Linked DNA regions of Homo sapiens. Changing the gene in region 2 together with the main gene of any one other region gives a genetic interaction. Each region holds a gene or a part of one and is shown on either strand. Other genes may lie near its edges.

Region 1 (16,382 bases), on a different chromosome or scaffold from region 2:
AGGAGAATCACTTAATCACCTCCGCCAGGAGGAGGAGGTTGCAGTAAGCCAAGATTGCGCCACTGCACTCTAGCCTGGGTGACAGAGCGAGACTCCGTCTCAAAAAAAAAAGCAAAAAGAAGGGCCAGGCGCGGTGGTTCATACCTGTAATCCCAGCACTTTGGCAGGCCGAGGTGGGCGTATCATTTGAGGTCAGGAGTTCGAGACCAGCCTGGCCAACATGGCAAAACCCCGTCTCTACTAAAAATACAAAAAAATAGCTGGGCAGGGTGGCACATGCCTGTAATCTCAGCTACTAGGGAGGCTGAGGCAGGAGAATCACTTGAACCCAGGAGACGGAGGTTGCAGTGAGCCAAGATCATGCCACTGCACTCCAGCCTGGGCGACAGAGTGAGACTCTGTCTCAAAAAAAAAAAAAAAGGCAAAAACAAAGAAAAGTGGAAATTACCCCTGACTATAATCTAGTCCTCCATCCCCATCTCAACATAGAGCCTCATGTGGAGAGAAAAAGACATTTAGAGCACTCAGAGGCGTGTTCAAATTTTGTGTTGTTCGTTTCTTGTTCAGTACTTTGAGCATGTTTTCTCATGAAGAAGGAGGGCCCATCTTTCCTTTGCTGTGTGTCGTCAGTGGCCCATAACACCTGGTACATTATCAGTACCAACAATGCACATCATTAGCACAAACACTGTAGCTCTTCAAGAACTTTCAAATAACAATAAACACTGAGTACTGGGTGTTGTGCTAAGAACCATGTGCATGGTCCTTGCAGTGAAGAGGATGCTGTCGACTCATCTTTGGCCCAGACTGCACTGTGAGTTGCATTCCAGATATGATGATGAATTCATTCATTTATTAAACACACTTACTGAACAAGGCATTGTACAAAGATAGAGAAATATGGCAGCATACCTATTCTTAGAGTTTATAAACTCCCTGGTGAGATGTGACATACATACTTATCTGTTGCCAGATAAGTAGGAATGAGTGAGGTACAAAACGCTATAGGAGTCAGGAGCTCACCTAATTCATTCATTTGGCTACCTCTATAGGATAACAATCTGGGGTCATGGGTATGGATTGTAGCCATGGAATGAAACTACATGAAGCAGCCCACTACATTGGCCCATGACCCATATGTCAGTGACATGGTCCCCAACTGGCGATTCTGTAAAATCTCAAAAGGTTATACCAGATATCACCAGCACAGTAGCAATCTGTGTACATTCTTGCGGGAGAGGGAAAGCAACATTACCTTATTCACTCTTGCAGCCCATCACAGCATCACACCCATCAAGAGGATATTAAAGTAATATTTGTTGAACTAAATTGAATCGACCCCTTCTCTCTTTGAATCAGGTTCAGAAGAGATTCCCATAATGCTAAGAGCTTATCTAACATGGGGATAGGATACAAAGGAGAGAGGGGACAGTGATATGCTGATTTCCTTCTGAACACAGGCCAAGTGGTAATCAAGTCAACTAGGGTAAAGAGGGGCTGACTCTCCAACCTTCTACATTTAAAAGCTTGATGGGCCAGGCGCGGTGGCTCACGCCTGTAATCCCAGCACTTTGGGAGGCTGAGGCGGTTGGATCACTTGAGGTCAGGAGTTCGAGAACAGCCTGGCCAACATGAAGAAACCCCGTCTCTATTAAAAATACAAAAAATTAGCTGGGCATGGTGGCATGCACCTATAATCCCAGCTACTTAGGAGGCTGAGGCAGGAGAATTGCTTGAACCCAGGAGCTTGCAGTGAGCCAAGATCGTGCCACTGCACTTCAGTCTGGGCAACAGAATAAGACTCTGTCTCAAAAAAAAAAAAAAAGCTTGATATTTCTGAATAACAGCTTACGATGACTGTGGGTTGATGCCTCTAAGGCAATGGTTCTCAAAAAAAAAAAAAAAAAAAATGCCAGGGGTTATTTTTCTCAATTTGGCAGTGTCTGGAGATATTTTTGGTCACACTGGGAAAAGGGAATGTGCTCCTGGCATCCAGTGGGAGGAGACCCGGGATGCTGAAAAGTATCCTACAGTGCACAGGACAGTCCTTCACAACAAAGAATTATCCAGCTCAACATGCCAGCAGCGCCACTGTTGACAAACCCTGAGTTTGGGGGAGTGTGTTTCAGTCAGCTCCCAGACCAGTCTGCATTCTTAATTACTTTAAAAATGAATGCTCTGAACATTGGGGGGTTTCAGTAAGAGACAGTAGACAACTCCATGCAAACCCTGCACTGAGATTCTAAAAGTCCCAACAAGGGACTTTTAGTACAAATCCCTTTTAGGTATAAAGAGTAACAATAATCATGAAACAAACACTTAGCGGAATCAAGGTGAAAAGAACTCCTACTCTTCATCTAGAACAGGGCTAGCCAATGAAACAGAATGTGAGTCACAACTTCAAGCCTTGTACATCATTTACAAATTCTGTTGGCTGTATAAAGTAAAAGGAAGCAGGTGAAATTAAGTTTAATAACATATTTCGCTGAATGCGATATATCCAAAATACTATCATTTTAATATATAATCAATGTAAAAATTGTTTTAATTTTATTATTATTTTTTCTTTTTGAGGCAGGTTCTTGCTCTGCATCCAGGCTGGAGTGCGGTGACGTGATCATGGCTACTGCAGCCTCGACCACCTGGGCTCAATCAATCCTCCAACCTCAGCCTCCCAAGTAGCTGGGACTAAAGGTGTACACCACCACACTCAACTCATTTTTGTATTTTCTGTAGAGATGGGATTTTGCCATGTTATCCAGGCTGGTCTCAAACTCCTAGGATCAAGCGATCCACCCGCCTTGGCTTCATAAAGTGCTGGGATGACAGGTGTGACCCACCGAGCCCGGCCAATATAAAAATTATTAATAATATATTTTACATTCTTTTTTTCATACTAAGTCTTCAAAATCTAGTGTGTATTTTACAATTAGAGTACATCTCAATTTGGACCAGACACACTTCAAGCTCTCAATAGCCACATGTGGCTGGTGGCTACCGTACCGGACAGCACAGATCTAGACCTGTGATAGGAATCACCAAAGGTTCTCATTAAAAAAGCAGAGTCTGAGCGTTTTGCCCCAGTTTTGAGTCAGCATGTCTGGAATGGGAGCCAGGAATCCACATTTTAAACATTTGCTCAGATGATTCTTACACAGTTGTTCAACAGACCACATGCTGAGAAAGGATGATTTATTCTAGTCCATTGACTTGTTTGAAAGATAACATGTGCGTCTCAGTGTCTCATAGCCTAGTCCAAAACCATGTTCCATAGCATTAGTTTAAAGAGACAAGAGATGTCATAACTATAGAAGATATAGGGGAAAGTTGTTTTTTGTTTTCCAAAGAAGGAATGGAGAATTCCTCCCACAAGAGAATCTTTCGGCTGGGTGCAGTGGCTCACGCCTGTAATCCCAGCACTTTGGGAGGCCCAGGTAGGGTGAATCTCCTGAGCTCAAGAGTCCGAGACCAGCCTGCGCAACATGGCAAAACCCTGTCTCTACCAAAAATACAAAAAATTAGTCAGGTGTGGTGGTGTGCACCTGTGGTACCAGCTACTTGGGAGGCTGAGGTGGGAGGATCACTTGAGCCTGGGAGGTGGAGGTTGCAGTGAGCCAATATTGCACCACTGCACTATAGCCTAGGTGACAGAGTGAGACCTCATCTCAAAAAAAAAAAAAAAAAGAAAAAGAAAAAGAAAAGAAAATTTGTTGTTCTTAAAAAAAAGAATCTTGCATAGTTTCTCATACAAATCCCGAGGAAAACAACATTTTCCTTCAGCACTTACTATTGGGCTATTTCTGCATGTATTTTTTGAAAATTTAAATCAATACACCTATGAGTAATGTTTTTCTGTTTTTAAGGAGTTTTACTTCCTCAATCATCTGCAAATGTTTTAGGGGAGACTCAGTGTCCTACACACCGCACTCTCAAACAGGAAGTAAAAACTACCTTGTGACTCAGAAAATGCCAGAGAACCAGACTCAAACTAGACCAGACTAATACGGTTCTTTCTGTTTTCATGCAGCAGGTTATATTATCTAAAGTAATGGTAAGACTGCTACTGTATCCTCACATCTGCTTATTGTTTTCTTATCTCCAATTTCAACTCAATAATAGTTAAACTCATAAGTGAATTTGCTTCCATAAGTATAAAACTGTCCTTCTCAAGGGCGACAAGCAAGGAGAATTATGCTAAAAATGGTATCTTAGAGTCCTTTGTGGTCTCACCTGTATCCGTTATCAAGACCCTTTTGCTCACAAGGAAATGATTTTCGAGAGAAGGTCCACGTACATCTGATTTGTGGGTAGGCTTTAAACCTGACAGAAAAACAAAACTCTTCATATTGGTCAATTTCATAATCTTCACTTGAATTGGTAGCATTTATAAATCCCTTTTCTGTAAGAAAAAATAGGCATTTATGAGTTAGTTAATAATATTCATAGGGAAACGTATTGAGAAGATAAAATAAACTTGTATTCATCAGTTTAACACAGGAAAACTCAAGTGTTGGCATGCTGCAGGTCAGGTTGGATAATCCAAGTGAAAACCCAGGAGTCCTATCCCTAGTTCTAAGCCTGAGCTCATCATCTTTCGAAGTTAAGAAATGTTTAAAAAAAGAAAGAAGGAAAGAAAAAGAATGGGATGTAGATAATTGACTGTCTGGCCCCTGCTCTCAGCCAGCACCACTCTTCCATTGATGAGAGAGAGTAAAATAAACTCAAGGCACAAATAAAAGAGCGATCTGGCTAGCAATATTCACGAGGTTGCCTTATGGAACACTTCCTTATTAATCTGCTAAGAGCATCGCTGTATTTCTCGGCATTTTCATTATGGCTGAACGCTGTGCCCTAATCTGAGATTATTGAACTGTGGTTATTTTCAGATCCTACATACCCCACCAAAATTTCAGTGCATCTAAGGGCTTGTACTGTCTCTCAGTGCTCACTGCCCTAACAGTGCGGTTAGTTGGTTCTTAGAACTAGTATTTATTGTCCATTTTGTGTCAGGCTCTGTGTCAGGTTCTGGAACTACAAGGATAGAATGAGTTGTTCTTGTCCTTAAGAAACTTACAGTCTACTGGAGGATAAAAGTACACAAACAGATGGTCATATTACAATGTGTTATATGCAAAGACAGTGGCATTCAAGCGAGCCTGGTTTAACGGGAAAAGGAAGAGGGTGGGCAGATTATCTTTGCAAAGCTATTCTAACTCAGTTTCTTTCTTAGTGTTTGATAGTAGCATTATATTGAAATCAGAATTTGTACCACATACTTCACATTCCACACTACAGCGACTAAAAATAGGAATAAAGATTGTGTGAGCAGCCTGCATTACCTACGATGGTAACCAAAGCTGATTGACTGGGATGCTTTGAAGAGGAACAAGTGTAGTATCCGGTGTCGTTTCTTGCCACTGATGATACAAAAGCAAACAGAATCCGTATCATAGTTCTGTTTGTTGAATAGGTACTCATCTCAAAGTAGTTGCCCTAGGTTTTAATAAAACAGAGTTTGCATTTAATGTTTTCAATCCAGACTATTAGTTAATTGTTCCTGCATTTTCAGAATACAAACTTGTCCTATTACCTCCTCGAGTGCTTTGTTTTCTAATTCCCAGGTGAGCCCGAATCCATGGTTCACATGAACAGCTTTGCACCTTATCCATAAGGGTTCCCCTACTTTAAGAAATAATTGTGGCAATGTGGTCTGAGGAGTTTGATTTAGATCTAGGAGATGAAAACATCCCAAGTGAGAAAAAAAAAGTGATTTTTGCCTCATCACAAAAGATATCCTGAACATTCTGAACAAAGACTTTAGCATCATCTCAAATATTACTAACCACATTAATAAAAGAAGCTTTTAGAGACTGACTCCTCTTTTATGAAGAAATCAGCATTTACAGAATCCATAATATTGCATTTACTGTGACCTGAAGGAATGATAGGATTTCTGAAGTTGAATGATCACCTACGCAGTTACTGTTAGTCCCTGATAGTTGCTAAGAACCGGTCACTGAAAATGAAAGTGCATGATATTATAGTGTTACCTATTGTGAACAGCCTGGTGCATTCCCTGCCCAGTTCATTTCTGGCACAGCACCTTATGTCCGTCCCAAATAATTCATGAAGCACTTTTTCCTCCTTTTTAACAACAGCTGGACTTTCTTCTTTACAGCTGCAATTAGAAAAGAAGTACCATTTGGCTAAACAAGTTTTAAAATTACAAATGAATGCTCAAGAGGAGAACAAAGTTCTAGAGCCAGTTTTAAGGGTCAAATGGTAAACAAAAGGTCAAAAGGTAAACAAGCCCATATCTATGGTTTCAGCTAAGAGCTCAGAGGGGAGCTAGCTAGTTACTCATTATCGCAATGAATTAGCATAACACTAAGGAGAATTACATAACAAAACAGTTTAAAATTGTTCATGTTTGGTGATCTCTTTGTTGCTGTTGTTTAAAGACAGGGAAAGAAAGGGAAAAAAATGAGAAAGAAGATAAAGGAAAAAAAGAGAAGAAAGAGAGAAGAGAAAAAGCATGATTGGGCTTTCATGAAGTTTAGCAAGGTAAGCATCCTTTTGGGACGCAGTAAGGGAGGGGGAAGCTAAAGTTTCAAAAGTCACCCGAGTTCCCATAGGAACAGAGGAGGGCCAAGGTGTCACCCACAAGGGAAGTCAGCCAAGACTCCCAAGTATTCAACAGAGCAAAACCCCTCTCCCTGCCTCAGCAGAAAGCGAACTTTTGTACCACTTTGGAACAAAGTATTTGGTACTTTTTCTCCTTCTATTTGGTCCTATTTTAAAAAAAAAAAAGTTGTTTAGTAAATTTTAATTAGTTCAAACTGCATGAATTTTTACTTTGTAAGAACTTAACTTTGGCATATATGAAAAACTATGTAAACATTTATACCTTACTTAGTATTGGCTAGGCACTGTTCTATGTGCTTTACATATATCAATTCATTTAATCAGAATAGCAATCCTATAAGTATCTGTTGTCATCCGCATTCTTCTGATGAGGCACAGAGAGTAAGTAACTTGTCCAAGGCCACACAGCTGCTAAGCAAACCAGGGTTCAAACCCAGGCTATCTGGCTCTGGATTCTATATCTTTAAACAATCATATTAGACTGCTTTCCCAGAACAAACAGGATAATCAGAAATTAAACATTTTGTCACAAGGAATTTCTTTCTTCCTTTCTTTTCTTTTTTTTTAGATGGAGTCTCACTCTGTCACCCAGGCTGGAGTGCAATGGCGCGATCTCGGGTCACTGCAATCTCCGCCTCCCGGGTTCAAGCAATTCTCCTTCCTCAGCCTCCTGAGTAGCTGGGATTACAGATGCCCACCACCACACCTGGCTAATTTTTGTATTTTTAGTAGAGACGGGGTTTGACCATGTTGGTCAGGCTGGTCTCGAACCCCCAACCTCAGGTGATCTGCCTGCCTCGGCCTCCCAAATTGCTGGGATTACAGGTGTGAGCCACTGTGCCCAGCCTATAATTTCCCTTTTTTTTTTTTTTTGAGATGGAGTCTCGCTCTGTCACCCAGGCTGGAGTGCAGTGGCGCGATCTCGGCTTACTGCAAGCTCTGCCTCCCAGGTTCACGCCATTCTCCTGCCTCAGCCTCCTGAGTAGCTGGGACTACAGGTGCCCGCCACCACGCCCGGCTAATTTTTTTTGTATTTTTAGTAGAGATGGGGTTTCACCATGTTAGCCAGGATGATCTCGATCTCCTGACCTCGTGATCCGCCGGTCTTGGCCTCCCAAAGTGCTGGGATTACAGACGTGAGCCACTGTGCCCAGCCTAGAATTTCTTACTTATAAGATAATTCTACTTTAAAATCAGTATCTTTCTTTTTGCCCCAACCAGATGCCCAGGGAGCCAACAATCCTGGAACGTAGAGGGACTTTTACTTGTGTAGCATGATGCCCAGGAAGGGCCCTGCAGTTGATTTGAGGGGTTCCAAAAAGCCCCTTACCAAAAAAATCCTTGTCCTCCCTGTGAAGCCCACATTGGCCATTCTGTATTACTTATTTATTTTATTTTTTTAATTTTATTTATTTATTTTTTGAGACGGAGTTTCGCTCTTGTTGCCCAGGCTGGAGTGCAATGGCGTGATCTTGGCTCACCACAACCTTTGCCTCCCAGGTTCAAGAGATTCTCCTGCCTCAGCCTCCAGAGTAGCTGGTATTTTAGGTGCCTGCCACCACACCCAGTTAATTTTTTGTATTTTTAGTAGAGATGGGGTTTCACCATGTTGGCCAGGCTGGTCTCAAACTCCTGACCTCAAGTGATCTGTCCACCTTGGCCTCCCGAAATGCTGGGATTACAGGCGTGAGCCACTTCACCCGGCCCTATACTGGCCATTTTTTAACTTTAAGAAGCCAAAGTTTCCTGTTTAAATGAGCATAAATTAAATTTTACATACAGCTTGATGTCAACTACATTAGAAAAAGGCCAAAAGGAAATTATGAGAATAGCAGCTACCATGGATGTGTCATACCTTTCCCCCTGTGAATCGCAAAGCACCCATTCCACGATCGGCTCTGGAACGCTCTCAGATATGCAGACCAGGGCGTCCTGGTTTTCCATTTTTCTAAAGTAAGGTCTTCTTAATGTGTAAAGCAGGGTATCTAAAGCATCATAAGTTATTAACATTTTACTATTTTAAAAATAATTCTCTTAGCAGCCCCTCAGAAAAGGATTCTATGTCATTATGAAAAGTTCTCAACCATTACGTATACATATTTTTTTCTTTTTTCATAATAAAGGCATCAAAAGCAAACCAACCATTATATTAAATTTAGCTGTGGCTGCAGTGTCAACTTGAACATTTCTCCTCTTGGCCAATTTCTTTGGGTATTTCACAAATCCACAGCTAACTAAAGTAGTCGAGTGAAGCCATGTGAAAATACAAATATTGATAGGCACAGGAAAAAGGAAATTAGCAATAACATATGGCTTAAACCCTTGTTTAACACATAGTTTAGACCTCAACTTTCTTCCTATAATTTGATCTGCAACTAGGCAGAAATATACTAAGATTTAGAAAGACAGAAGAAACATGGTAGGGTGGAGTTGGAATTGCAACAGAACTTAAGAGGTTTAGTTGAGCCTCCCACTCACCCTGGATCACACACACACACACACACACACCATCCTTCACTCCCAGCTATTTCTAACATAAACTTTCTACTTCTACTTTGACTCTTCTAGAGACTGGAGTTCATGACCTCCCAGGGCAGGTCATTCTAATTTCTGACAAACTTTTTTTTTTTTAAAGAAAGTTTCCCTATACTGAATTCCAGCCTCTCTCCTTACAATAAATTTTGTTTGAAAATACTATGTACTGTTTGATATATATATATATATATGAAAGAATATATGGAGTGTAAATTTCAAAGCATAACAACAACAAATACCCACGGAGCCACTATCCACCTAATAACTAGAATATTAATAAATACCTTTTGATCTACTTTTATGCTTCTCCCCACCTCTCAACTGCACGTATCCTTTATCCTGAATTTTGTTGATTATTCGAGGACTCTTCAAAGTAGTTATACCAAATAAATATGTGGCACTAAACAATATATTGATTTTTTCATTCTTGAGCTTCAAAATAGTGTTATCAATCAATATGTAACTTCTACAACTTCATTTTTTCATCCAACCTTATGTTTTTAAAATTCATCCATGGTTTTACATGTAGCTATACTTTATTCATTTTTTTTTTTACTGCTACATAATATTCTATTGGTAAATATATCATTATTTTTTCATTTTCTTGCAGTAGACATTTGGGTTGTTTCCTTCCGTGTGTGTGTGTGAGACAGGGTCTCTGTCACCCAGGCTGGAGTGCAGTGGTGCAATCTCAGCTCACTACAGCCTCAACCTCCCAGGCTCAAGTGATCTTCCTGCCTTGGCCTCCCAAAGTGCTTGGATTACAGGTATGAGCCACCACACCCGGCCACAGTTTTTTGTATGATCAACCATGTGCTCTGAACATTCTACACATTTGTACTGAGGCATGTGTATAACAGTTTCCTTAATAACATTCTTAAGAGTGGAACTGCTGGTCTACATGGTATGAGCACATTCAGCCTTACACATAATGATCATTTGTTTTCCAAAGTGGTTATACTAATTTATGTTACACAGCAGGATATGAGAGCACCTATTGCTTTATAGACTTACCAAGACTTCTTAATTTTCAGCAATCCAGCAAGTATAAAATGGTATTTCATTGTGGTCTTAATTTAATTTCTCCATTATTAATTTAACATGTGTTAAAATAATTAATTGGGAGTCCATTAGGCTGAGACAACTCTAACAGCTTGAGTTCCTAGGTAAACAAATCACAACACAACTCAAAAAAAAAAAAAGGAAAAGAATAAAGGCCGGGCAAGGTGGCTCACGCCTGTAATCCCAGCACTTAGGGAGGGTGAGGCGGGAGGATCGCTTGAGCCCAGGAGTTCGAGACCAGCCTAGGTAACATGCCAAAACCCCGTCTCTACAAAAACAACAACAACAAAAAGCAAAAAACAAACCCAATTCAATATGAGCAGCAAAATGCAACTTAGCTTAATCAATGAGGAACTGCAAACTGACCAATCCAGGGACTGTCCTTCTTTAAACAATCAAATTTTTTCTTTGTCTTGCTTCCGGGAACACATTATAGAAAGAAGTCTTACCCTTGAATCTCCTCACTGGAGCCCACCTGCTTGCCATCTGGTACTGCCTGATTCATGAATTGCTTTCTGCTCAAATATACTCTTTACAACTTTAAAGTGCCTAAGTTTATCTTTTAACATGTTTCTTGACCATTTAGGTTTCATGTTCCAAAAATGAAATGCCTACTCATGTCCTTTGTTCATTGCTCTACTAGGTTTTCATTTTGTTCGTTTTTCTTATTGACTTATTGACTTATATAGATTGTTTATCTTATTGACTTTACATATTATGACTATTAATCCTTTGTTGATTGTGAACTGCAAGTATTTTTTCCCATCTTGAGGTGATTTTTACTTTTTCTCCCTGTAATTTCTAACAATTGGTTCTTATCATATCCTCTAGAGCAACTTTTTTAAAGTCTAGCTTTGATTCCATATGAAAATCTTTCAAATATTTAAAATCAGAAACCGAGATCAAGGGAGATAATTACCATACAAGGTACTTTAACTAGTTAGCTCAGGTTTCCTGACTCAAATCCCAAAAGAATTTCCTCTGCATTACACTGCAATCAATCTTATCGTCTCCTCAAAACATTTCCTTCTATATACTACACATTCCCAATTCCTTCAACTGCTCCTAATTTAAAGAATTCCAAGTTTTCCACTATCCTGGTTGCTCATTTTGTCAGTATTCATCTTTAAAAAAGTAGAACTGAAATGAATAAGCTTCTATTAATTTCCTTAATTTAGACGTTATATTTTCATGAACACTGCCAAGGTTCAAATTTACTTTTTTGGCAACCATGCCACGCTGGTGGTTAATACTGAGCTTGTGGTTGACTAAACCCTTTCCTCTTTTTCACACTGACTGTTGCCACATCTCTCCCACCTATTTTTTGGATCCCACCACCTTGCAGAATGCTAAAAATAAGTTATAATTTACCTGAATAACTGTTGTTACATTTTTACATTGTAAATCTTAAGTGAAAGGAATATACCCTAAGTATAACAGAGACACAGCAGATGCCCACTTACCTTATACAACTGTTTATACTTGGCAAGAAAATTTTAAAAGGAGAGAAAAAAGGAGAAAGAGGAAGAGAAGTAGAGAACAAGAAACGTCCTAGCTTCATCCAACCTGGGGCACGTATTTACTGTCCCACAGAGGCGGTGAGGGACTAGAAAGGGGGCAGGGAACATGACCGACATTAAAGAGCAACATAAGGTGATTCTCGGCTTTGGAGCTTGTAGGGCTCTGGTCCTATCATTTTCAGAGTAATTAAAGGACTTTCCAGAATAAATTTTGGGTAATTTTGACTTTAGCTCATGTATACCTTACAGGCTGACTTTAGAACCTTACTCCACCCCCAACCCCAGTAAGATGATGCTTCTGGGACTCTTGCGTGCTCTCTTCTGTTAGTAGCTTTGACAGCAAGACCCACACATTCTCACACAAGACCCAGGGCAGTGTGGTGCAGAAAGCCTCCAGCTGTGCCCACCACCACACCTCTCAGAGGGGCTGTTTTCTCATCTACATGCATGCAGGATCGCTGTGAGCATCTGAGATGAAACAGGCAGAAGATCTTCAGCAAAGGGCAGTTGTGGTTACTCCTGACCCAGGGCACCTCTGTGGGCCGGACATTTAGTCACTGACAAGGAAGAGGGGAGCCTGGCAAGTTGTGTCAATGTGTCGGGGGGACCTAATTTCAAGTGATATTAACCCAGGGTTTTTGGAGCACTGCACTGGCCCCTAAAGGCACGAGGACCTAAGTGAATGCAGACACCTTTAGTCCTTCTTGGTCATGGAAGGCGAAGCAGCAAGTTCAGTGTGCATAGCACGGAGTCTGTGCATGATGGGGACGAAACAAGGAGAAGCCAGAAAGCACACGCAGGTGGTGCCTCTGCCAACTGCACAGCTGCCTCCCTTGGTCAGAACATCTGGACCGTTCCTTACAGTTTGCATATGGTCTAGCACGCATGTGGGCCCGCGCTGTCCAACACAGTAGCCCCTAGCTGCATGGGGCTATTTACATTCCAATTTTAACAAATTAAAATTAAATAAAATTAAAACTTTAGTTCCTCAGTCACCTTAGCCACCTTTCAAGTGTTCAACAGCCCCATGTGGCCAGTGGCTACTGTATTGGAAAGAACAGACAAGATCATTTTCATCATCTCAGAAAGTTCTATTGGATCACGCTGAGACCTTCCAATCCTGTGAGGTACGTATTTTTATCCTCATTTTACCAATAAGGAAATCGGGGCTCAGAGAAATTGTGACCTGCCATAGGTGGTAGTATCAGAACCAGAATTAGAACAGAGGTCTTCTGATTCCAAGGTCAAAATGTTTTCCATTTCTTCCCTGTCAGCCATCTGCTACTGAACAGAGGACGTCCCAGGCGTTTTTAGCAGCAGTCACATTCTGAGAGCCCACGGCACACATCAGTGATTCATCAGTGATTCTCAGTTCTCTATAGGTTCTACAGAGGGTTGACAGGAATCTAATCAATCCAACTACGTATCAAGGGAAACCTGAATATGTCTAGAGGAGCTGGTCAAGCTAACGGGTTCTAAACCACTCCTTTGAAATATTGTGGTATTCCAGGCTGGAATACTAGTAGCAGGCTGGACTTACTTCTTATACTCACTGTAAACAATATTGTGTAATTGGTAGCTTCACTCTGAATAAAAAGTAGGTATTCTCCAGCTTGGGTTTCTGTCATTTTCAAAATGACCATGGAAACAACTCCTCTGCAAAACAGGAAAGAGAACTAGTTATTTTGGAAAATGTGTGAAACTAAAAACAAAATTTCATAGTGACTAAAAAGGCAGTTTGGTACTCCAGCGTTCCCCGACTGGCACGGAAGCCGCTCTGTGGAGAACACAGCTTCTGTCATGTGCCCAGCACTCAGCCTGGGCGTTGCTCGTTGAACCCTGACTTTTAACCAGTCCTCCCCTTGAGGGTGGGAGAGCTCCATTCCGGTGCCATCATCTCACCTTCTCTGAGCTTCTAGGATCGAAAACTCCCATCTAAAAACACACAGGAGGCCGGGTGCGGTGGCTCATACCTGTAATCTCAGAACTTTGGGAAGCCGAGGCAGGCAGATCACCTGAGGTCAGGAGTTCGAGACCAGCCTGGCCAACATGGTGAAACCCTGTCTCTATTAAAAATACAAAAATTAGCTGAGAATGGCGCAGGCGCCTGTAATCCCAGCTACTCAGGACACTGAGGCAGGAGAATTGCTTGAACCCAGGAGGTAAAGGCTGCAGCAAGCTCAGGTCGCACCACTGCACTCCAGCCTGGGTGACAAGAGTGAAACTCCGTCTCAAAAAAAAACTGAAAAAACAACAACAAAAGCACAGTAAGCTGGGTGCAGTGGCTCACACATGTAATCCCAGAACTTTGGGAGGCCAAGGCTGGCAGATCACTTGAGCCCAGGAGGTCAAGACCAGCCTGGGCCACATAGTGAGACCCTACCTCTATTTTTTAAAAATTAAAAAAAAAAAACAAAAAAAAAAACGGCCAGGTACAGTGGCTCATGCCTGTAATCCCAGCACTTTGGGAGGCTGAAGTGGGTGGATCACCTGAGGTCGGGAATTCAAGACCAGCCTGACCAACATGGAGAAACCCTGTCTACTAAAAATACAAAATTAGCTGGGTGGGGTGGCGCATGCCTGTAATCCCAGCTACTCAGGAGGCTGAGGCAGGAGAATTGCTTGAACCCGGGAGGCGGAGGTTGCGGTGAGCCAAGATCATGCCATTGCACTCCAGCCTGGGCAACAAGATTGAAACTCCATCTCAAAAAATAAAATAAAATAAAATAATAAAATAAGTTCACACTTTCTGACCTTTAGACCCTTAACTGTGCAAAGTGTAGTCTTTCTCTAACAGTGTTAGCATCAGCTGGGAGTTGACAAAGATGTAGAATCTCAGGTCCCACTGAGACCTACTCATCAGAATCTGCATTTTAAACAAGATCCCCAGGCAATCCAAATACAGGTTATATTCGAGAAGCCCTGCTTTAAAGCAGCAAGCAGGTTCAATAGAACATGGGCCTGCATTCTTAAACACAGTCAATTAGCAGGATATATACTTGATTTGCTTCTGCAGATCTATTTTGATGATATGCTTTTTTTCTCTGAACCATTCGCCTGGCATGAGCCACCACGTCTGCAGTCGCAGAAGTTTGGGAGGCGAGGTAGGAGGATCACTTGAGGCCATGAGTTCAAGACTAACCTGGGCAACATATTGAGATGCCTTCCCAATAAAAAGAAAAAATGTGGCTGGCACTGTGGCTCACGCCTGTAATCCCAGCACATTTGCAGCCAAAAAACAAGAAGTGAGTAATACAATCGCAAAAGAGGAAAGGAAAATGAATGCGTTCCAAGATTTAGAACTCAACTTCAGAACTATACTCACTGTCCTGCAAATCACTTAAGAGAAGAATGTATTTGACCTTAAAAACAAATACAAATAACTGGTACAAGTTGATCACAGAGACGTTCTCCAAGACCCTATCAAGGGGCCCGATACCCCTTGCAGGCCATTTGGGTACTGTTTACTACATAGTTCCTGGAAAGCGCGTGCCTTCTCTACACCTAAGGGACAACAGGACAGCCACAAGAATGTAAAAGAAAGGCTGCGTTAAGAGGGCATTTAATTGACCTATGTCCTTTGCCCCATCTCATTTCGGCAAGAGGACAAGGACAGCAGGGGGCAGCAATCAGCATAGAGCTATACAGGGTTAGGACATTACCCACACATCTTGGCTAAGACATTTTTCTGGATGAGATCGATGTTCCTCACAGACAGATCAATGTCTTACTAAATAATCTGTAGATAGCACATAACATTGCAATTCTGCTTATCATATTGTGAAACAAAATAGATAAGATCAAATGTTCTTTTCCCAAGCATTTCCCAAGAATAAATTTCCTTTAAAAAAATTTTTTTTTAAAGAATTTCTTGGCTGGATGCTGTGGCTCATGCCTGTAATCCCAGCACTTTGGGAGGCCGAGGTGGGCAGATCAAGAGGTCAAAAGACGGAGACCATCTTGTCCAACATGGTGAAACCCCACCGCTATTAAAAATACAAACATTAGCTGGGCGTGGTGGCAGGTGCCTGTAATCCCAGCTACTCGGGAGGCTGAGGCAGGAGAATTGCTTGAACCCAGGAGGAGGAGGTTGCAGTGAGCCAAGATCATGCCACTGCACTCCAGCCTGGCAATAGAGCAAGACTCTGCCTCAATAAATAAATAAATAAATAAATAAATAAATAAATAAATAAATTTAAAAAAGAAATTTCTTGCTACACTAACAAGAATGAAATGAAAACTTTCTAAATTTTATCTTTAACATGATATCCAACTAAAAAACAAGACACTTAAAAAATCCCAAATAGACCCAGTGCGGTGGCTCACGCCTGTAATCCCAGCACTTTGGGAGGCTGAGGTGAGTGGATCACCTGAGGTCAGGAGTTTGAGATCAGACTGGCCAACATGATGAAACCCTGTCTCTACTAAAAATACAAAAAAAAAAAAAAAAATGAAAACAAAAAACATTAGCCAGGAATGGTGGTGGGTGCTTGTAATCCCAGCTACTCAGGAGGCTGAGGCACGAGAATTGCTTGCAGCTGGGAGGCAGAGGTTGCAGTGAGGTGAGATCGTGCCACTGCACTCCATCCTGGGAGACAGAGCAAAACTCTGCCTCAAAAA
Region 2 (17,082 bases):
CAAGATCTGAAATCCTTCTTGTCAGAGATAAGAGGACTAGTGTTGATTGAACATAATTGAATCGATATATGTTAAACAGTGTCACCTCAAGTTATCTTTCTTGGGAATCCATGCACTAACCTTAATGCCACCAATATTGCTTCAAACATAGTGGAGTTAACTTTTTTGAATTGTTCAGTTTAAGAAACACACAGTAACAAAGAACTGGCCGTAAGGACCAACACAACTATTAAAAGACATGACCACCACTTGTTCTTCCACCACTGAACCTTGATAATGTGTTTATTCTTATACTTACTACATTTATCAGGGTTATTTGATAAGATATCCACCTCCTCTTTGACCTTTCCCTCTCTATACTCTTAACTCTCTAAGAGCTGAGACAAGGAAAAAAAGAAAAGAAACACACAGAAATCAGCCATATTTATACATTATATTTCTTTAAGTTTGTTCTTGGTGACCTGATAACTTAGTTTCGATATTTGTTGTTATTTAATATTCATTAAACAAACACATAATTAGGCATCAGACAATATGTTTGGGGATTTAAGGTGAACAATATAGACACAGTAGCTTCCTTCACAGAGATTATAAGGATATAAAAGCAAACAGGGAATTGCAGTGTACTGAGATAATTACCATAATGGGAGAAGCCAAGGGGGTTAGGGGGGCCTTCAATTGGGCCTTTAATGTTAGCAAACGCTTTCCCAGGAAACATGAGAGGAGTGGATCAGTGAAAAGGCCTGGATGTGGGAGAGAACAGCATGACAATGCCTAGGTGTGAGAGAGAAATCACAGACCTTCAGGGTACTGAAAGAAGTTTCCTTTGTTTAAATCTAGACTGTAAGGATGTTTTTTCAAAACCAACTGAAACTAGTAGAAATAAGCTTTTATGTTCCAGAATCTCTTTCCCCATAAGTTTCCAAGCACAGAAATATAAATACAATATATTTGTCGTTTCAATCATGATGCATTACATATCTATGCATAAGACATTTATTCTTGTGGAGTTACTACACACACTAAAAATAACTTTGCTTTAATTTTCCTGTTTATACTTTATTATTCACTTACAAGTAAAGCTATTATGACATATTATTCCACAGTGAGTTCCAATTTTACTCATAGACAATTATGTAATAGTAACCAAAACAACACCTTGTCTCAGAAAATTTTTTCTTGATCAAATGCAACGGAAAGAATCACAGCACTTTGAGAAATATGGTATCATTCAATAAAAGGCTCAATTGGTACATGATAATTTTCAAATAAAAATAAAAAATGATGCCAGTTACATAGAACATTAGTGTGCTTATTATTCTCTGTTATTAAATACATAACCAACATACTAAAAGCCAATATAGGAAGAGGAATGGGAAAAGAAAATTGATCAGAGGGGCACTGGGATTGGGTGAGGGATTGGGAACATTTCTAGCAGCTATTGTGAGTAGAAACCTTGAGAAGAGAGATGTATAAAGAAGTTGGTTCTGGGCAATTGTATGATATGAATCTTTTGTATCTTTTCTTTAAGCAAAACTATATTGAGGATATATATTATTTTAAAGATTAAAATACAGTATGGTTCCCACGTATGAGAAAGATAAAAAAAAAGGAGAAACCTGTTTATTACCACTCTACAGCTTTATTATAGAGCAGATGATAAGTCAGTCACTTCTTCAAGAAGCATATAGCTTAGAGGTTAATGTGATTTTTAAAACTAAGCCAAAATAATATGACATACCTTCCTGAAACACTGTAAGGAATGTATATTTCTAAATTTCCATATTTTTAACAGGGAAGGGCATGCAAGTTAAGGAAAACAATTTTGCTGCCAAACTGAAAGAAATGTATTAAGACTGAATGAGAAAGAACTAGCCAACTAACATGTTTCACTGTTCATATACAGATTCAAATATAGAGTAAGAGTCATAACTTAAAAGAAGAAAGGACTTGAGTAAACATAAACTCCAATCTTTATATTTTTAACAAAGAAAAAATTGTTGATCTGGGTGGATGAGATGATTTGCCCAGGGATGGAGAAGAAAGTATAAGAAACCAGACACCCTAGTTCCTAATGCAGTGCTCTTTGGATAATCTTATCTATTAACTCCTGGTTTACATTCATTGCACAAAGATTCTCACGTCTCTTCTTCCTCTTACAGCCTGTGAACACTAAGACCTACCAAGAAATAATTCACCAAGACTCACTTCCTAAAACTTGACTCTACCCTCAAGGAAATATGGGGAACAAAATAGATATAGTAAACAAGTAAGTGAATTACTTCAGCAAACTAGCTAGTACGTATGTTGTGAAAAGATAGATTACCTGAGAAAACGTTTCTTCTCTTTCTTCTTCGAGTAGAGATTGAGGCGCTGATAAAAAATCCTTTTTCTCACAGCTCTCCTGGCTGATGAGCGTGTCCGCATAGTTGGGCTGGGGGAAAATCAGGTGGCTCTTCCGCGAGTCCGCAGTGAGGGAGACCTCGTGGGAATAGGTCTGCAGGAAAGCCCGAACCCCGTCCACGCCCACAAAGTGCGAGCTCTGCATGCCTGTCAAGCTGCCTCCTGAAGCCTGCAGCAGGCGTGACTTGTGCCAGCGCCGCAGCCTGTGCGCCAGCAACACGATGACGAAGGCCAGGAAGACGCAGGAGACCGCGGCCACCGCCACCACCAGGTACAGAGTGAGGTCCGAATCGTTGGGTATGGCGGAGGGCTCGAGGCTGCCCAGGTCGGCCAGGATGTCGGGGATCCTGTCGGCCACGGCCACGGTGAGCGTGACAGTGGCGGAGAGAGGGGGCTGGCCGTGGTCCTGGATGGCCACCACGAGGCTCTGCTTGAGCGCGTCTCTGTCCAGCAGGGCTCGCGCCGTGCGCACCTCGCCCGTGTGCAGACCCACCGAGAAGAGTCCCGGCTCGCTGGCCTTGAGCAGGTGGTAAGACAGCCAGGCGTTCTGGCCCGAGTCTCTGTCCACCGCCACCACCTTGGTCACCAGGTAGCCGGGCTCTGCGGAGCGGGGCGCCAGCTCCACGCCAGTGGAACCGTCTGTGGGGAAGGCAGGGTACAGGATCTCGGGCGCGTTGTCGTTCTGGTCCAGCACGAACAGGCTTAATGATACATTGCTACTGAGTGGAGGGTTCCCGCTGTCCCGCGCTATCACCCACACTTGCAAGTCTCGCAACTGCTCATAATCAAAGGAGCGCAGTGCATAGAGTACTCCAGTGTCGGAGTTGATAGAGATGTAAGAGGATAAGGGTGCCCCCTGAACAGTGTCCTCCGCGAAAGAGTAAGTTACATGAGCATTGTCGTTGCTGTCGGGGTCATGGGCCGTCACTGAGAAGACAGAGGCTCCTCTGGGGTTGTTTTCGGGAATGTAGGTGGAGTAGGATGTGCGGGAGAAGGCGGGTGCGTTGTCGTTGATGTCTGCCACCTGGAGCAAAATGTGAGCATCCGTGGACAGGGAGGGGTTCCCTCCATCTTTAGCGGTTAGAGTGATGTTGTAAAAGGAAAACTGTTCCCTGTCAAGGGCTCTGGTTGTAACCAGTCGGTAGTAATTGTCTACTGACTTTTCTAACTTAAAAGGAAGATCCTCGGGGAGTGAACAGGTGGTGAATGCGTTCTGCCCAGAGTCTCTATCATGTACATTAAAAAGCCCAATTATGGTTCCTGGAAGAGAGTCTTCAGAAACTGAGCTAGTAGCAGATGTCATGTAAAATTCTGGGGCATTGTCATTCACATCCAGAACCGTGACGATAACCTTCGCTCTGGTTAGAAGGCCCGGACCATCCTGAGCTTCAATATCAATTTCATGGAATGTAGCATCCTCATAATCTAGATCTTTTATGATTGTCAGTTCTCCAGATGTTGACTTAAGCTCAAATACCTCTGAGGTTTCTCCAGGGCTTTTCTCTAGAAAATATACCACTTGAGCGTAGTAGCCCTCATCTGCGTCAGTGGCGGTCACCGTGAGTATCCGGGTGCCCACGAGCGTATTCTCCGGAATGCTTATGCGGTACTCGGGCTGTGTAAAAACAGGCGCATTGTCGTTCGCATCCAGGACCTTCACGCAGATGCGGGAGGTGCCAGATAGCACTGGGTCACCCCCATCAGAAGCCACGAGAACGAGGTGGTGAACAGCCTCTTCCTCGCGGTCCAGAGAGCGCTCCAGCACCAGTTCTGGGTACTTGTTCCCATCAGCTCCCCTTCGCACGTCCAGGGAGAAGTGGTCATTTGGGTTGAGTGCGTACTTCTGAAGGGCGTTCTCACCTACGTCTGCATCATGCGCATTCTTAAGAGGAATCCGGAATCCTGGCGTAGTGGTTTCACTGATTTTTAGCTCCAGTTCCTCTACTCCAAAGCGAGGGGCATTATCGTTAATATCTGTTATTTCCACCTCTACTGAATAAATAGTCAATTTATCCTCCAGCAGAATGTTAAAATTCAACAGACAGGGTGCGCTCTGAGCGCAGAGCTCCTCCCGGTCTATCCTGTTCGCAGTGACCAAGCTGCCGCTTCGCGGGTTCAGAGCAAAGAGCTGGGACCTACCTCTGGAGACGATGCGGACTCCCTGCTCTGCCAGTGCCAGGGGCTCCAAACCCAAGTCCTTGGCGATGTTGCCTACGAAGGAGCCTCTGTCGATCTCTTCCCGCACAGAATAGCGAATCTGCCCGGCCCTGGCCTCCCACAGGGTCGCCAAAAGGAAGCACAGCAGGACCAGCTTTCTGCAGTGTGGCAACTTTTGCAGAGCCGCCATTTCCCTCCTGTCGCAATTTTCTCCGAGTCAACTTCCAGCATCCAGTGCGGATTCCAATCTTTATTCCTCAGGGTGTGAGATAACCAGCATTCACGGGACCCAGGTCCCTATGGAGAGAACTGGTGGGCTGTTCGACTGAATTTCTTTGGTGTCCTGAAGCTTTAGGGCCAAACCTCCACCCCCTTGTGCTGTGGGAGCCGTATTGCTGGATTGGATGTCTCGCTGCCTTTTACTCCTTAGGTGGTCAACAGCGACGCTCAGAGGCCTAAATAATTTCTGCACCTGCTCAGGAAAACCTAAGTTACTTCTTGTTTGTTTGCCTTTGTTGACTTTCAAGGCGCTTTAAAGAATCTTACAGCTCTAAGATACCCTAGAATTAGATCTTTCAAAACAGGAATCTTTTTATCAGGATTAATAAGAATGGTATAAATGAACATGATCTTGATAATAGTTGCTAGGAAAGTATTATTGACTGCTCAAGGCATTAATCAATGCCACCACTGCCCTTGCTCCAAACATCTTCCATCTCTTATTGTATAATCAGAAGCAGTAAGATCAATTAAGAAACGTTAGCTACGTTTTCTTCTAAGGTTATATATTTTGAACGTTTATGGTTGATGGCTTTGCATTTACCTTCAAAATCTGCCTTTAAATTATTGAATCATCAGACACTTAATTGGGTACATGTGCCTCCCACTTTGCATGATTGCAGCTGGAGCTAGAAATGGTGAACATGATAAACACAGGCCCTGGTCTCAAGCGTGAAGGTTGGAGGAGGACATAAGAAAGTAAAGAGAGTATAATAGAGTATGGTAACTGCTGTGATATGAGGTAGGAAACACTGGGTGATGGAGGAATACCTAGGAGGGGTATCCAGTCTAGATTTGGGGTCAGAAAAGTCTTTTTGAGGGCATGATTGAAGCTGAATCATAAAAAGTAGGATTGAATCAAGAAAAAGGCTGAAGAAGTGTTCTAGAACCTCTGAACAAATGCTTGAAGGTAAGAGACAGCATGGAACATTACAGAAACAGAAAGCAGGTCTATTTGATAAAGCTAGAGCCGGAAGGGGTTTTTCACCACACTAGGAATCAGTCACTCAAAATTGTTTGAGGTTGTCAAGTTCTTTTTCTGATATTCATTTTCCAAGGGTGTAAAATACAATGCAGTGGATGTCTTCTTACTCTTGTTTCATCTTTACCATTTTGACCATAGTCAAGCATACAATTCTGTGACATTAAGTACATTCAAATTACATTCTGGTGTGACCATTACCACCATCCACTTCCAGAACTTTTTCATCCTCCCCAACTGAAACTCTGTACTTATTAAATAGCAACTCCCCATTGCCTTTCACCCAGTCCCTGGCAACTACCATTCTACCTTTTTTCTCTATGAATTTGACTAATCTAGGAACTTCATATATGAGGAATCATACAGTATTTGTCATTTTATAACAGGTTTATTTCACTTGATATCATGTCTTTGAAGTTCGTCCATATTGTAGCATGTAACAGAATTCCCTTCCTTTTTAAGGCTAAATAACAGCCCATTGTATGTGTGAACCACTTTTTATTTACCCATTCATCTGTCAATGGACACTTGGGTTACTTCCACTTTTCAACTATTGTGACTAATGATGCCATAAACATAGGTGTACAAATATCTGTTGAAGTCCCTATTTTCACTTCTTTTGGGTAATAACCAGAGTGGAATTGCTGGATTATATGGTAATTCTATGTTTAAATTTTTGAGGAGTCACCATACCATTTTCCACAGCAGTTGTGTCATTTTATATTCACCAGCAATGCACAAGAATTCCAATTTCTCCATATTCTTGTTAACATTTCTTTTCTTTTCTTTTATGACAGCAATTCTAATGAATGTGGAGTAGTATCTCATTATGGTTTTGATTTGCATTTCCCTAATGACTAGTGATGTTGAACATTGTTTCATATGGTTTTGGCCATTTGTATATCATCTTTGGAGAAATGTCTATTCAAGTCCTTTGCTCATTTTAACATCCAATTGTTTGGGATTCTTTGTTGTTGAGTTCGAGTTCTTTATTCTGGATATCCATTCTCAGATACATGATTTGGAAACATTTTCTCTCTTTCTGTGGGCTGCCTTTTCACTCTATTGATATTGTTCTTTGCTGCATATAGTTTTTAACTGTGATAAAGTCCAGTATACAATTTTTTTCTTTTGTTGCTTGTGCTTTTGGTGTCATATCCAAGAAATCATTGCCAAAAATCAATGTTATGAAGGTTTCCTCCTGTTTTCTTCTAAGAGTTGTATAGTTTTAGTTCTTAAACATAATAACTAAAAGGGTTTTATTGCTTCTGAATATTGCTTCTTTGATCCATTTTGAATTAATTTTTGTATGTGGCATAAGTGGAATTGCCCATTTCTGGTGACACTTTAATCTGTTTGCCTTTTGGCTCCTTCCTTATTGAAATTTTCTCATTTTTACTTTCATCCATTCCTCTTACAAGACTGAAGAAAAATATATTGGAAATAATTGATACCAACTCACCATGTTTTCTTGTAGAGCTACTATGGTATATTTTGCTTTTGTTTTTTATTTTTATTTTTGTGTTTGTGTTTGTGTTTTTTTGTTTTATAGAGATTGGGTCTTGTTATACTGCCCCGGCTGGATTCAAACTCCTGGGCTCAAGCAATCCTACTGCCTCAGCCTACTCAGTACCTGGGATTATAGGTGTGCCATTGTGCCTGGCTCTCTTACATGAGTCCTAACGTTAGACTTGACAGAATTTTCATTTTCTCCCCACTGGTTTTATTACATTTATTGTCTGCTTCCATTATTTCATCCTCAGAACTCTTCCATGGTTGCATTTCAAAAATGTAACTCTTTGTTATTTTTTCCATCATTTTATTTTAGTATATACTCATTGTATGTTTTTTATCTTACTTCTTGAATGGCAAGCTAAATTCATGTATTTTAAATAATTTTGTTTGCTTTTAAAAAAATTATTGCATTTGTCTATAAACTTACTCCTAATTAGTTTTAGTTGCATCTCACAATTTTTAATAAAGAATATTTAAGTCCTTTTTTTCTGAGTAGTTTTCATTGTCATTGTGATTTTTGAAATCCAAGAGTTATTTAAGGGTGTAGATGTAAATATCCAAACTTTTTCCCTTTTCTATTTTTAAATGTTTGCTTTGTGATTAAGTATGTGTTGTAAGGCAAGTATATTATTGGTACTTTGCAATTTGCTGAACCCTTTTTTGTAATGACTAGGTAATAAACTTGTAGATTGTCTGCTTGTTCAAGGATGACTATTCCATATTTGTTGTGTGCAGAACGGATCTATTAGAATCCTAATAGATCAAGCTTCTAAATTATGTTGTTCAAATCTTCTTTATGTTAACTAACTTTCTTCCTGTGGGGTCTATTATTTCTTATGGAATTATGTTTAAATATTCCGGTATTTTCTAAGCTATATTTTTCAGTAATAGAAGCTTATATTTTTATATCCTTTTGATCATCTGCTCTTTTTACAACTATAATCAGTTCATTTTTTAAAATCACAATTTGTGTTTGTTACCTTAAATATGACTTTGTTGTTACATTAACATGACTTTCTTTTTTGTGTGTGTACATATATATTTAGTTTCACTGTTTCAGTGTATTTTTATTTTAAGCACGTGTATTATTAGAATATGGATTTTAAAAATCAACCAGTTTTGTAATATTTGTCCTTTAATAGGTAAATGTAGCTCACTTGTATATACACAGAAAAAAAATTATGATTATAAGAGCTGAGAAAGTCCAGAAGTGAGATAACTTAGTTATCAATTGAGAGTATACTCTTGGTACCAAGCAAAAAATAAAAATAAAAATGCAACAGACACACAGCAAGAATGAGAGAAAGTCTTCAATAGTTACCAGAGAGAAAACAGAGATTACCTTAAAAAATAACAGTGTGTTGACAGAAAGTTTCTCACTAGTAACAATAAATTCTACGAGACAAGTGTGTTTTGAAATTTTGGTTTGTATATTTATTTTTAGTGGAAGAGCTCTGTTTGTTTTTAGTTTTAGTTTGTTTTTTTCTCTTCTACACTATATCCCTCTCTCCTTCCCTCCTGGGTTCAGTGCTCATTTGTAATGGTTTTGAAATAGTTTCTATCTGACCTCAGGTCCCAGGCCATAACTAGGTCTCTTAATGACGCTTTAATGATGCACAGCAGTGATATTCTGGATACCACAGCTCACATATGAGATACTTGGTGTTCGCTGTCTCTATCCAGCATCCGTGTCTGTCTCTCTCTCTTGGTCTACACAGCTTACGAAGAAAGTTATAACCACCGGAATTGGGAAACAGCTTTTATTATTATATTTATTTATTTAACAGGGTGTGGCTCTGTCGCCCAGGCTGGAGGGCAGTGGCGCGATCACGGTTCGCTGAAGCCTTGACTTCCTGGGCTCAAGGGATCCTCCCACGTCAGCTCCTGCCCCGCCCCGCCCCGCCCCTCCCCGCCCCGCGTAGCTGGGACTACAGTCGCAGGCCGCCCTGTCCGGCTGGTCTTGAACTCCAGGGCTCCAAGGATCTTTCCGCCTCAGCCTCTCAAATTGTTGGAAATACAGACGTGAGCCACTGCGCCCAGCTAGGCAGCATGTTAATGCATCTTTCTTTTCCTTTTTAACCAGCTGAAGGGCCTCATTGCTTATTTTGGATTCAGGCAGTAAGCCTGGTCCAGATATTTATCTAGTCTGAAGCACTTCTGTCCCTATTACATTGCTGGAGGCAGTTTCCTAACCTTCAATTTCTGCTTTTAAGTCCAAGACTATAACTCACATGGCTTTAGACTAGCTCACCACTTTGCTTTTGCTTTCCTCTTATATTTTATGTATCTCTGTATTTTATTGGAGCAGAGTAAATACATCAAAGCATGGACTTACTCCCCGACCATACTTTTTTTTTCTTCTGAAAAGTTAACACACATTAAAATAGGATATATACTTGATTTTTGTTAGCTGATTTCATTACAGGTATAATGTATAAGTCAGGAGGCTTCAAAGATATTTCTCAAGTTGCATGATAAATTTTGTGTTGTTCATTTTGTTACTTCATACATTACTTAAATAGACGTATTCTTCAGTACAGGCACCACAGCTCACACCTGTAATATCAGCACTTTGAGAGGCTGAGGTGGGAGGATCGCTTGAGCCCAGGAGGTAGTGGCTGCAGTGAGCCATGATCATGCCACTGCACTCTAGCATGACCCCATCTCAAAACCAAAAAAATCTGATAATAAAGATAGAATAAAAGGCTAAAATATTCAACAATAATTTAAAATTGCAGTTTATATAGATCTCTATAATCTTATATGAACACAACTAAAAATACTACTTTAGACAATCTTCACCTCTTCAAATGTCCCCAAATAAACTATCACAGTGTCCTGACAGATGACATCTACATTAAATTCAGGGGTAGATTAGCAGGTACTTATAAAAAGAAAATTTGAAAATAGTGTTAGTCATTTAAATATTGGTGAGCCTTTTCTAATCAAACCTTTTAGCCCAGAGGCAAGTAAGAAAATGTTAGAAGCTAGATCGCCGTTTCTAATGCAGTGCTCTTTCCAAACAGAGATGGCATCTCACACATACCTTCAACCCAACCACCTACATTATGATCACAGTCTCCTTTTCAGTGCAAGAACAATTATAAATATACCTGCATATGAACGTGTAGACTCAATCGTGATTTTGCAGGACTTGTAATAAAAAGCTACAAAGATACATGGGTTAGAAGAACTATCTGTAGCAAAGAGCGAACGCTAGTAAGTTAAATCAAGAATTATTTTTCTCTAGATAGCTGATACATTCATCACAAAAGTTTACCTGAGAAAATGGTTCCTTTTTGTCTTCAAGTAAAGACTGGGGTGCTGATAGAAAACCCTTTTTCTCACAGCTCTCCTGGCTGATGAGTGTGTCCGCATAGTTGGGCTGGGGGAAAATCAGGTGGCTCTTCCGCGAGTCCGCAGTGAGGGAGACCTCGTGGGAATAGGTCTGCAGGAAAGCCCGAACCCCGTCCACGCCCACAAAGTGCGAACCGGGCATGCTCGCTAAGCCGCCTCCCGAAGCCTGTAGCAGACGTGACTTGTGCCAGCGCCGCAGCCTGTGCGCCAGCAGCACGATGACGAAGGCCAGGAAGACGCAGGAGACCGCGGCCGCCGCCACCACCAGGTACAGAGTGAGGTCCGAATCGTTGGGTTTGGCGGAGGGCTCGAGGCTGCCCAGGTCGGCCAGGATGTCGGAGATCCTGTCGGCCACGGCCACGGTGAGCGTGACAGTGGCGGAGAGCGGGGGCTGGCCGTGGTCCTGGACGGCCACCACGAGACTCTGCTTGAGCGCGTCTCTGTCCAGCAGGGCTCGCGCCGTGCGCACCTCGCCCGTGTGCAGACCCACCGAGAAGAGTCCCGGCTCGCTGGCCTTGAGCAGGCGGTAGGACAGCCAGGCGTTCTGGCCCGAGTCTCTGTCCACCGCCACCACCTTGGTCACCAGGTAGCCGGGCTCTGCGGAGAGGGGCGCCAGCTCCACGCCGGTAGAACCATCTGTGGGGAGGGCGGGGTACAGGATCTCGGGCGCGTTGTCGTTCTGGTCCAGCAGGAATAGGCTGAGAGACACGTTGCTGCTGAGGGGCGGATCCCCACTGTCCCGCGCCATCACTTTCAGTTGCATGTCCCGGAACTGCTCATAGTCGAAGGATCGCAGCGCATACAGGACCCCAGTGTCGGAGTTGATGGAGAGGTAGGCAGATAGGGGTGCCCCCTGGATAGTGTCCTCTATTAGGGAGTAAGTGATTTGTGCATTCTCATTGCTGTCCAAGTCGTGGGCCCTCACAGAGAAGATGGAGGCTCCTCTGGGGTTGTTTTCGGGAATGTAGGCAGAGTAGGAGTCCTGATGGAAGACTGGGGAGTTGTCATTGATATCTGTCACTAGTAGTGAAATGTGAGTTTCAGTAGATAGAGCTGGAGTTCCTTGGTCTATTGCTGTTATTGTGATGTTGTACCCAGAGATAAGTTCTCTGTCCAGTGTTCTTTCAGTCACTAAACGGTAATAATTATCAACTAACTTTTCCAATTTAAAGGGTAAATTTCCAGGAATGAAACATGTGGTGTAGCCATTGTCTCCTGAGTCCTGGTCATGCACACTGATAAGAGCAATTATGGTCCCAGGAGGAAAGTTTTCTGGAACTGCAGTGGTGACAGAGGTGATGGTCACTTCTGGGGCATTATCATTTACATCCAAAACTTTGATCAGTACCTTAACTTTAGCCATGAGCCCCGCACCATCCTGGGCTTGAACTTCCATTGAATACATTTTGTATTCTTCGAAATCTAGTGGTTCTTTATTTGATATTTCTCCTGTGTAAGAATCTAAACGAAATATTTGGGCCACTCTGTGGTCTACATTGTGAAAGGAGTACGTTACTTCCCCATTGGCTCCCTCATCAGGGTCAGTGGCATTTACCATGAGCAGCTGAGTACCCAGCGGCACGTTTTCGGGGACATTTATATGGTATTGTGCCTGAGTAAATGCTGGAGGATTGTCATTTGCATCCACCACCTGAATGTAAATTCTGAGGGTCCCTGAACGGACTGGTTCACCCCCATCAGAAGCTGTGAGGATGAGGTGGTGGACAGCTTCTTCTTCTCTGTCTAAGGGACTCTGCAGCACCATCTCTGGATGTTGAGGCCCATCGGCTCCCTGTTGCACATCCAGGGAGAAATGAGGGTTAGAGCTGAGTTGGTAGCTCTGGAGTGAGTTCATACCCACATCAAGGTCTTGCCCAAAAGGCAATGAGACTCTGGTACCTGGAGTCGTTATTTCATTCATTTTAAACTCCAGTTCCTCTAACTGGAATTGGGGAGTGTTGTCATTAATATCAATTATTTCTACTTCAACAGGAAAAAGCTTCATTTTATCCTCAACAAGGATATTAAAACTCACGAGACACGGCATGCTCTGAGCGCAGAGCTCCTCCCGGTCTATCCTGCGCGCGGTGATCAAGCTGCCACTTCTAGGATTCAGAGCGAAAAGCGGCATCCTACCTCTGGAGACGATGCGGACTCCGCCATCTGCCAGCTCCTGGGGTTGCAGCCCTAGGTCCTTGGCGATGTTGCCTACGAAGGAACCTTTGTCTGTCTCTTCCGGCACTGAGTAGTGAATATTCCCAGCCCCAGCTTCCAACAGCAGCTCCAGAGAAAGACACAGAAGCATCAGCCTGCTGCAGCCAGTCAGCTTTTTCTGAATCTTCATGGCTCTCTCACTTCGTAGTTTTCTTCCAGTCCAGTACCAAGGGTATCGTTTCTGCTTTTCTGAGCTGAAATTAACCCAATTTTCAGGAGAATTCTGACTGGAGAGTCATCCAGAAGTAGGATTTAGGCAGTCTTGGACAGTCAGTTTTCAATCTGGCGGTTATGGAGGTTCTAAGAGGCACGAGAGCTTTTTTCTTTTTCTTTTTTTTTTTTTTCCTCCTCCTGACCTGTGTGTACTGCCTGTATCTACCAGATTAGTGAACAGCGGCGCCCACAGTCCTAACCAGTTACTGCATTCCTAGCAAATACTGAAAACCTTCTCATTAACTTGTTATTTTCTTAAGTTTTAGTCTATTGTCAAGGAAATAATTCTACAATATATGTATGAAAAAGAGAAACTATATGTTCACTTCTTTAAATGTGCCTAAATGTCACCAAATTGAAATATACAGGAGAATCCAAGTATTCCCATGTTATCTGCTTTCCAAGTTTGCTATTCAGGGAATTATAGTAAAAACCTAACATTACAATGAGGACAAAATCATCTCTCCACTTTTTCTGTAGTAAAGTTTGACCACTTGGTAATTTCCCAGGCCACATAGAGCAGCTCCCCTTTGACTGGAGGGTGAAAAGTATTAGAGGGAAAAATAATCTTTTAGAATATAAGCTAGACTTTAAAAAAATCATACCATCCCATTTCCTTCCCATTATGATTTGAATATTTATCAGAAACCTTGGGATTTTGAAGAGCATGGTTTAACCCTATCCTTATTTTTCCTCTTTTTTTTTTTTGAAGTGTCTTTGCATTATGTGGGTTTTTAAAAAATTCTTAAGATTCACCAAAGGCAATATATTTTGAAAAAAATAAAACTGGGCTCTTGGAATTTCATTGAAAAGTCACATGAATATATAATTTAGATTTCAAATTTCAGAGACAAAGTCTATGATATTATTCTTCACAGCTGAAAAGAAAAATGGTCTCATCTTTATTTTTAGATAGGCTCTTATAATATGTATTCCTCTATAATCGCACTTAATATTTTCTCCAAGAGAAGTTGGTTTTCTCTTAACAGTATTTTTTAACCAGTTGAGGATGTGGCCTTCTTTTTTTTTTAATCACTGCACTATTAGCAAAGGGTTACTAATTAAAATGTCTCAGGCTTAGAGTGACTTACTTATCTTTACCCCAAAGTTAGAGAAGCATGCTATCTGTACTCCAGAGTCTGATAATTTCAGGAACAAATTCGGCCAGCCAACCCATGGACACCATGACTGAGAAAAGTTAAAAATGAGGAAAGAAAGAAAACAATGAAAGGTCTCAATAATAGTTTTTGGAAAGAGAACTTTAGTTCTTAACCAAATCTACAGTTTCTCAGCTTCTCAAAGACAAGTACATGGAGCCAAAGAGTAGAAATTTAAAGGTGCAATAAATCATCTTCAATATTGCAAGGAAGTAACTCTTTAACAGAGAATGTAACTTTTCAGAATACACATTAATAGGCATAAACTTTTCCCCAAAGAAATTGTGAGCTAATGAGGTAAATTAAAATATACATAAGAACTAGTAAGTAAACCTGTAGAGCTCCCTACTTTCAGCAACCAAAAACACGCAGGAGTGATTTATAAAAGGATGGTAAGTATAAAATAAAAATGTTAAAATATCACACAAATACATTTGAATCAAATGCAACATTTAAAGCTTCATTGCTGCCCACACACAGTGGCTCACGCCTGCAATCCCAGCACTTTGGGAGGCCAAGGTGGGCAGATTACTTGAGGCCAGGAGTTTGAGACCAGCTTGGTCAATATAGTGAACCCCGTTTCTACAAAAACAAAAATAAAACAAAGCTTCATTGCTGGCACTGCAGAGAATACCTGGTTCAAAGCTGTTTCTTGAGTTAAAGAAATTAAGATTTTAAAAATATCTAAAACCACACATACGTTGTAGGAACAGGGCAAATTTCCTTTCTTTAAGTTGGAGACAACTCCATATCCGGGCTTGGACCAGAGATCCAGCTGAAAACAGCCCCAGGCAATGGAGCTATAGGGGGCATTGCAGGTTCAGAGAGATGGCCAGAGTCACACTGAGGAGAAACAGCATGGAGATCAAGGCAACGGCCATCGCCAGCTGTTGGGTGCTGTCTGCTGCCTGCTGTTGGGTGCTGGGCGATTGCTGAGGTCTGGTAGCAACTCCTGCAAACTATGAGCAGCAACCAGGTGATGTTTCAGCGTGATGATTCACCATTGACCACGGTGACCAACAAACCTTGGCAGGTTGCATCTCTGTTACCCACAGTGACACGGCACGCATCTAGCTCGTGCACATCCCTAGTTTGAAGAGCCACATTAGCTGGCCTGAAGCACATGATAGGACAGTCAGCCTTTATGCCCCAGCTGGTGTCCACTTTGGTGATGGGATAGCTGGGTTGCATTGTGAGTGGTGCAGCATCAAAGAGGGCCCCACTTGGCTGCAACTCCTGGCATAGTGTCCTTGCATTTTTGCAATGGTCATCCACCATCACATGCAGGTTCAGGATGACACTGAGCAAGTTGAACCCTGGTCACTGGCCTGCAGAGTCAGCTCAAAGATAGTCTGCATGGTAACCATAGCACTCTGCACTCACTGACATGTAGAATGACAGTGCCCACAGTGGCAGGTCACTGGTCAAGAAGAAACAGGAGGCATATGGGACCCTAAGTTAGGGTGGGAAGCGCTAAAGCATGTGATGGAGGTGCTGGGCAGTGTTCCCAGTCACCCAAAAGAAATAGGAGGCTTGTTGAAGAATGAGCATTTTTGTGGATGCAGATGGTATGCAGGGTGATGCAGGAGAGGGACAGTTTGTCCTTGTTGGTGGTTCTGATGGTGACATTGTCCTTCAGGGTCTGCTACCAGTTTAGAATTCCATCTGTGAGTATCTGACAAAGAGTCACATCATAATTCTTGGAGGTGAATTGTTTGCCAGTATGATCATTTCTCTCTATAATAACTTTCATCTTTCATTTAAGGTCTCTTAGTCCTATTGTTTTGGTTAGGGCAACCACAGTTTTTACCTCTGATAGGACTAGATACCCAGCTGAAAGTCACCTGCACTGACTGCATTATACTTCTCAACCTTCATTTCAACCAGGACTCTGAAGTCGGCCCTCAAACTGCCTCCAGTCTTCTATTCCAAGCTATAACTGTTACTCTTCAAAATCAAGTATTTCTGTCATTATTGGACAGGAAATATATTCTGTATGCCCTGTAAAATTGTGTAGAAAAATCAGGAGAACTCTATATTAAAGATATTGTCTAGGTCAATGGGGATCACCTAAAGAATGAAGAGGAGGAGGTGGCGAGCAGGTTCTCCTGCAGGCTAACCCCACTTACACATTGCTCAATATCTGACGGCTGGCATTGGCATCCAAGGCCTGTGTCTTGCCCTGAGCTGTTCTGCCCCATCCCCACCACTAAGTGGTGGCAGCTCTGCTCCTCTGGTTCAGGGTTTCTTTTCTTTTCTTAAGAGATGGGGTCTGGCCATGTTACTCAGGCTGGAATGCAGTGGCTATTCACAGGTGTTCTCATAGTGCACTGCAGCCTCTAGCTGGCATCAAGCAATCCTCCTGCCTCAGCCTCCTGAGTAATGGGGACCACAGGAGTGCCACGCTGCACAGGCTCAGGGGTTCTTCAATAGCAGCAATTCAGAGTACATACTGCTGTAGTACTCTCCTTTACTTGTAGGGGAAGGGGAGATGGCTATTAAAACTAATCTGATATATTTGTACAGTTACTGCCGGTGTTCAAAATCTACTGCAGACTTAAGAGTAAACATTCCTCTTATTAAGACGTTTTTCAAAATTTCCAAAACAAAATTTGTGCTAAAAGCCATTTTGTTATTTATATCAAAGATGCATACGTTTATATGAAAACATTTATACGATTTTCAGTGCCTTCAAATTCAAAGGGCCGAGGGTCTTCCTTGGGCATAACTGCTAGATCTATCCCGTCATTCTCAAGCTCGGCTCTGGCTCGTTCTCTGGCTGTAAAGAGAGGCTTCTCAGCACTT

What was found.
Region 1: changes in PCDHGA2 (region 2) and FLT3 together harm fitness less than expected from each alone (positive genetic interaction), as found in Homo sapiens cells (one study listed by BioGRID).

Annotation. Positions count from the first base shown.
Region 1 is NC_000013.11:28,044,045-28,060,426, forward strand, and holds part of FLT3 (receptor-type tyrosine-protein kinase FLT3 precursor), read right to left. Parts: intron 13,419-16,382; coding exon 13,303-13,418; intron 8,880-13,302; exon of another isoform or gene 8,788-8,879; intron 8,631-8,787; coding exon 8,501-8,630; intron 6,179-8,500; coding exon 6,051-6,178; intron 5,731-6,050; coding exon 5,591-5,730; intron 5,494-5,590; coding exon 5,340-5,493; intron 4,400-5,339; coding exon 4,231-4,399; intron 1-4,230. UniProt on the Homo sapiens protein: Tyrosine-protein kinase that acts as a cell-surface receptor for the cytokine FLT3LG and regulates differentiation, proliferation and survival of hematopoietic progenitor cells and of dendritic cells.
Region 2 is NC_000005.10:141,326,640-141,343,721, reverse strand, and holds the start of PCDHGA2 (protocadherin gamma-A2 isoform 1 precursor), read right to left. Parts: upstream 4,963-17,082; 5' UTR 4,751-4,962; coding exon 2,327-4,750; coding exon of another isoform or gene 2,279-2,326; exon of another isoform or gene 415-2,278; intron 1-414. Other genes in the region: PCDHGA1 (protocadherin gamma-A1 isoform 1 precursor), read right to left, coding at 10,617-13,037. UniProt on the Homo sapiens protein: Potential calcium-dependent cell-adhesion protein. May be involved in the establishment and maintenance of specific neuronal connections in the brain.